2 separate regions of the Homo sapiens genome follow, and region 2 is linked to region 1. Evidence: fine-mapped expression QTL. A gene starts in region 1. The other region holds a variant in brackets. All regions are shown on one strand. Distances are from middle to middle.

The links. PIP is the estimated chance that this variant, and not a neighbour inherited with it, causes the effect. A credible set is the group of variants that fine-mapping cannot tell apart.
Region 2: its variant is the best candidate, but not a certain one, in a credible set for the expression of MRPS2 in whole blood (TwinsUK, PIP 0.76).

Annotation. Positions count from the first base shown.
Region 1 is chr9:135,499,313-135,502,207 of GRCh38, forward strand. MRPS2 (mitochondrial ribosomal protein S2) reads left to right here and starts at 1,370. Exons shown (of 4, transcript NM_016034.5): 1 at 1,370-1,441; 2 at 1,686-1,811; 3 at 2,532-2,661. The coding sequence starts at 1,399. It overlaps PIERCE1 (piercer of microtubule wall 1), which reads right to left and starts at 557. Exons shown (of 3, transcript NM_001048265.2): 1 at 397-557. The coding sequence starts at 539. RefSeq lists silencers at 660-829, 1,100-1,269, 1,480-1,639 and an enhancer at 1,595-2,219.
Region 2 is chr9:134,757,805-134,760,699 of GRCh38, forward strand. COL5A1 (collagen type V alpha 1 chain) reads left to right here. Exons shown (of 66, transcript NM_000093.5): 18 at 439-492. Among named protein-coding and RNA genes, the nearest start is that of MIR3689C, 90 kb to the right of the region's middle. The variant TACAC/T (reference allele first, on the strand shown) is at 1,712.

The sequences.
Region 1 (2,895 bases):
CTTACTACTTCTTAGCCTGCAATGCCCTGTGGCAGCTCAGAGCTGGCTGAGTCTACAGCAAGACAGTGGAGGTGCTGCTGTGCTCACGCCCCGCAGCGGAGTTTCAGGGTAGAGAGGAGAGGAGACTCACCCGACACAAATCAGTGGAGCTGAGACCACAACTGGGCTTTCTCCCCCCACGGCCCTGCCCCCCACTGCCCTTATCCCCACTTCCTTGTATGAGGCTCTAGGGAGCACGGTCGCCGCTCACTGGCGGGCGATGACAGCGCGGGCCCCGGATGACCACTCGATCTTCTTGATTTCTGTAGCTAGGACCTTGGGGGTCTTGCGGGGTCTCTCACACACGGGGCTATCGAGCAGTGGACGCCAGGACCAGGCGGGCCCCAGCTTCCTCACCTGTAGCCCCGGAACCACCCCGGGTTGTTGAACCTGCCCGGCAGGTCCGCGCTCACGCGGTAGTAGTCGCTGGTCCTCTCCGGCGGGGCCGTGGCCTTGGGCGCCACAGGCTCCGCGCACGCTCTGGGGCATTCCTCAGCCATTGTGCCTGGAGGAGAAGCGGGACTCGGCGGCGTCCTGTTGCCAAGCGACGGCCAGGTCACGTGACTGGGGAGCGAGCGGAGGGGCCTTAAAGGCGCCGCGCGTGGGCCGGGTTCCTCTGCGGGTGGGTCCGGAACCTGCCGGGCGACTCCCCAAGGGCCGGGAAGGTCGGGACGGCGAGAGATTCCCTGCTGGGACCGTCGTGTGAGGCAGCCCCAGGCCCCCAGCCACCCGCGGGGGGACCGGGCCACCCCAGCATCAGGGCGTGGACTCCCGGGCGAAAGAAACCCCAGGGCCTGGGACCCCGCCAGCCGGGTGACGGGGTTTAAGCACTGCAGGTCCACTCGGCAGGCAACGATTGGACTTTTGCTGTCCAATGTACTCCAGGGATGCTATGCCCCCCAGCACCCCGAGTCTAAATTGAGACCCGAGATCTGGCTAACTTTATGAAATTCTCCTAAGCCAAATATCGTTTAAATATTACAAACAGTTTTGGAGAGCGAGAGGTTGCGCAGGACGTGGTTCACAGCTCACTTGGCGGGAGGCGAGGGTCCCCATCGCCCAGCGGGCTTCCCCAAGGGTCAGGGGCCTCCCGGGCTGGCCGGTCCCATTAGCAGGGCGGGGCGAGCTGCAGGGCGAGGACCGTGGCTCCACTCCCCGCCCGAGACTCTCAAGCCCAGGACCCCGGGCCCTGACCCCTCGCGTGCCCCGCCCCCGCAGGGAGGTCCCAGCCGCCTGGGGACAGCGCTGTGGCTCCTCCGGGCCTGTAGGCGGCACTGCGGCCCCGCGCGGATGGCGACGGAAGGGGAGGCCGCTCGGCCTGGCCTGGAGGGAGACCTCGCTCTGCCCCGCGTCCCAGCCATGGCGACATCCTCGGCCGCGCTGCCCCGAATACTCGGCGCGGGTGAGCGCGCGCTTGCGGGACCCTGGGGAGGAGCATGCGAGGAGGATGCGGAGGGGCGCGGGGACCCGATGGAGCGGCGGGGACGTGGAGGGGACCCGGGGCGAGCGCGGAGGGGACTCGGGGAGGGCGCGGGGACGCGGAGGGGACCCGTTAGGGACGCGGAGGGGCCCGTTGGGGATGCGGTGGGGAGCGGGCGTGGTGCATTCGGGACTCGGCGCCAGGACCTCTATCTACTTCCCCCCAGGTGCCCGGGCCCCGTCGCGCTGGTTGGGCTTTCTCGGGAAGGCGACCCCCCGGCCTGCTCGGCCGAGCCGCAGGACGCTTGGAAGCGCGACGGCCCTTATGATCCGCGAGTCGGAGGACAGCACCGGTAACACTGGGCGCCCAGCCGAGTTGGGTGGGAACGAGGAGAGGCCGGCAGCCGCGGGGGATGCGAACCCTAGAGGGGCCTGGGCGCTGCACGCGGTCGAAACTGCGCGCTCCGCTGGGCTCCTCCCACTCCCGTGCTCGCCGCCGCTCGGTCCTGCCTGACGTAGCACAGCGGGCTGAGGCCACCGCCTCACCATGGATAGGGTGAGAGGGAGCGGGCGGGCCAGTGGTTAGCACAGGCTTCGCTCCCTAGGGGGGTGTCACTGGACCACCGAGGCCCGGAGCCCCGAGCTCGCCCAGGCGGGCCCAAGTGACCTGGGGGCACTGGGCTTGGAGTCTGCCCACCTTGCTGGACTCCTGATGGGGACTTTCTGGCTGGCCACCTGAGACCACAAGGCGGGGAGGTGCCAGAAAGACCTGAGCAACCCGCTGGGCCCCTCTCTTTTTCTCCTCTGTCTTCCAAGTAAGACCAAGGGACGGGGTTGACCAGGTTCGACCAGGCTTACCCAGGAGCAAGGTCGGGATCAGAACCTGGCTCCAGCCCTCTGTTTCCTGAAAAGGTCCCTGTGCTTCCAGGTCTTTCCTGGGGCTGCTGGGCTCCCGGCTCCCCACCTCGGTGTCACAGAAGGCACTTGGGAGCAGGGGTGGGCGGGAACTGCGCTCTGCCTGTCTCTGCTGCCACCGGTGGGAGACGCAGCGTCGCTCCTCCTCCCTGCCGTAGATTTCAACGACAAGATTTTGAATGAGCCCCTCAAGCACTCTGACTTCTTCAATGTCAAGGAACTGTTTTCCGTGAGAAGCCTCTTCGATGCCCGAGTCCATCTGGGACACAAAGCTGGCTGTCGGCACAGGTAGGTGACACCCCCATCTGAGCCCGGGGCGGTTCCCAGGAGGAACCTGGGACCTGCTCTGGTTCTAGGGCCACTTTTGAACTGGCCTATGTCAGTTTTAGGTGATTACAGCCCCATCCTCCTCCACATGGGAATACAGAGCCCCACAGAGAAGCAGGAGTTTATTCCTCAGCTTGGCGGACGCTCTTGTGTGCCTTGGTGTGGCGCTCACAGCCCTTGATAGGGCAGGCCTGC
Region 2 (2,895 bases), 740 kb before region 1:
CACCAATGGGTACGCGTACCTCCTGAGCGCGGGCAGCCCCTCGGCACCATGGATACAGCTGTGAGCGGACACACCGGGACCCTGCTCTCCTGGAGCCTCCCTGGGGTGGGGGAGATCAGCAGCAGACACTCACACACACGGGAAACTGCAGCGGTCGCTGAAATACCGCATGACTAAGGACCCGTCGGGGCCTGGGACTTGGGGATGAAAGTCATCTCCCCCTTTGCAGCCCATGTTCATGTTTGCAGGGGAAGAGGCTGAGATTGTAGATGCAAAGTGGGGGCCTATGGGGAGAGGGCTGGCCGATGGGGTTCAGGGTGCATAGATGCTGTGTGAAACGTGGTCCAAGGCGGGGCGGCCATCACTTGGTGGACACCAAGGCGGGGTGTCCACGTGTGCAGGGTGGCGTCTGAGGCAGCCTTTCTGTCCTTTTTGCAGGGTGACCGGGGTTTCGACGGCCTGGCTGGGTTGCCAGGCGAGAAGGGCCACAGGGTGAGTATTTCCTCTGTGAGACACAGGCATGACGATGGGCAGCAGAGGTGTCTCTCGGGAGGCCCTTCTCCTTCCAGGCAGCCTCAGATTTCCTGTGGGGTCAGGTCTCCGCCATTCCAACAGTCAGTATACAAACCTCACGGGAGTCAGCAATGGCAGTGAGCCCCAAGATGATGTCTTTGTTGATGGGTGGCCAGCCCAAAGGAATTGGAGCTCTTATCTACAGTTTGTGACAAGTGAGCCAGATGGGCCTACCCACCTGAGGCGCGTGAAGGGGGCAGGGAAGGAGCCCTTCCTTTTAGAGATCTGTTTAATGGAGTCCTTTAACATTTCAGGAAATCCAAGCAGCTGCCATTTCAGGGGCGGCCAAGGACACTTTGCAATATTAAAGTGGTGGTCCCAAGGGGGTGGGGACAATCTCAAGTGGCCATGTGGAGACCAGGTCACGAAAACATGCCAGGTGTCCCCCTGTTCCCTGTTAATGGGCGTGGATGAATTTGAAAGTGTGTCCCGTGAGTCCCGAGCTAGTGCGGTGACCTGGGGGTCTTCCTGGCTGCGCCGTTTCTATGTGGTTGTTGGAGAACACAGATGCGGCAGCTTTGGATAAACGGCAACAGCCAAGCCCCTCGAATCTTGAATCTGTCTCAATAGACTGTGGTCTTCTTTCAATAACAACGTGATAGAAAGCCTACAATCTCCTGCCCTGTTGAGGAGGTGTGGTGGGGAAGGCTCGTCCTGGCCGCCTGCCCTGCTTTCTCAGCCCATTTGGGGGCCTGACATGAGGGCTCTTCACAGCTTGTGGGGTGTTCCTTCTCTGACCTGCTTTCTGTGAAGCAGATTTCTCTGATGGCTCCTTTATATTTTAGCACACTGAGGACATACAGGCACATGAGTATGTGAGTGCACACCCCCCATGCACACACACACCCACACATACACCACATACACCACACATGTGTGCGCGCACACACTCATACACACATGCACACACACGCATACACACCCACACACCCCCACACTCATACACACATGCACACAAGCACACACACACACCCACATTCATACACAGATGCACACACACCACACATGCACACATACGCATACACACCCACACACACCCACACTCATACACACATGCACACACCCACACCCACACACTCATACATGCACGCACACACACCCACACACACCCACACTCATACACACATGCACACACACA[TACAC/T]ACACCACATACACCACACATGCGCACACACACTCATACACACATGCACACACCACACACCCCCACACATGCATACACCCCCACACCCCCACACACATATGCACACATACACCCATATTCATACACACATGCACACATACGCATGCACACCCCCACACCCCCACACTCATACACATATGCACACATGCACACACCCCCCCACCCCCACACTCATACACACACACCACACATGCACACACACCCACGCACCCCCACACTCATACACACATGCACACACACCACACATGCACACACGCATACACACCCACACCCCCCCACTCACGCACACCCCCACACCCCCACACTCACACATGCACACACACCACACAGGCACACACACACCCATGCACCCCCACACTCATACATGCACACACACGCATACATACCCCCACACCCCCACACTCATGCACACATGCACACACATGCACACCCACACACCCCACACTCATACACACATGCACACACACCCACGCACACACGCACATACACACCCACACACCCCCACACTCATACATGCACACACGCATACACGCCCACACACCCCCACACTCATACACGCCCACACACCCCCACACTCACATGTGCAGACACCACACATGCACACACATACATGCACACACACATACACCCCCACACCCCCACACTCATACACACATGCACACACCACATGCACACACACGCATACACACCCACACACCCCACACTGATACACACATGCACACACGCACACACCCCCACACCCCCCACACATACACACATGCACACACCACACATGCACACACACCCCCACACACCCCCACACATACACACACACCACACATGCATACACACCCCCACACCCCCACACTCATACACACATGCACACACACCACACATGCACACACATGCATACACACCCACACACCCCCACATTCATACACACATGCACACACACCACACATGCACACACGCATACACACCCACACACCCCCACACTCATACACCCACACACACACGCACATACACACCCACACACCCCCACACTCAGACACATGCACACACACCACACATGCACACACACACACCCACACACCCCCACACTCATACACTCATGCACACACACACACCACACATGCACACCCCCCACACTCATACATGCACA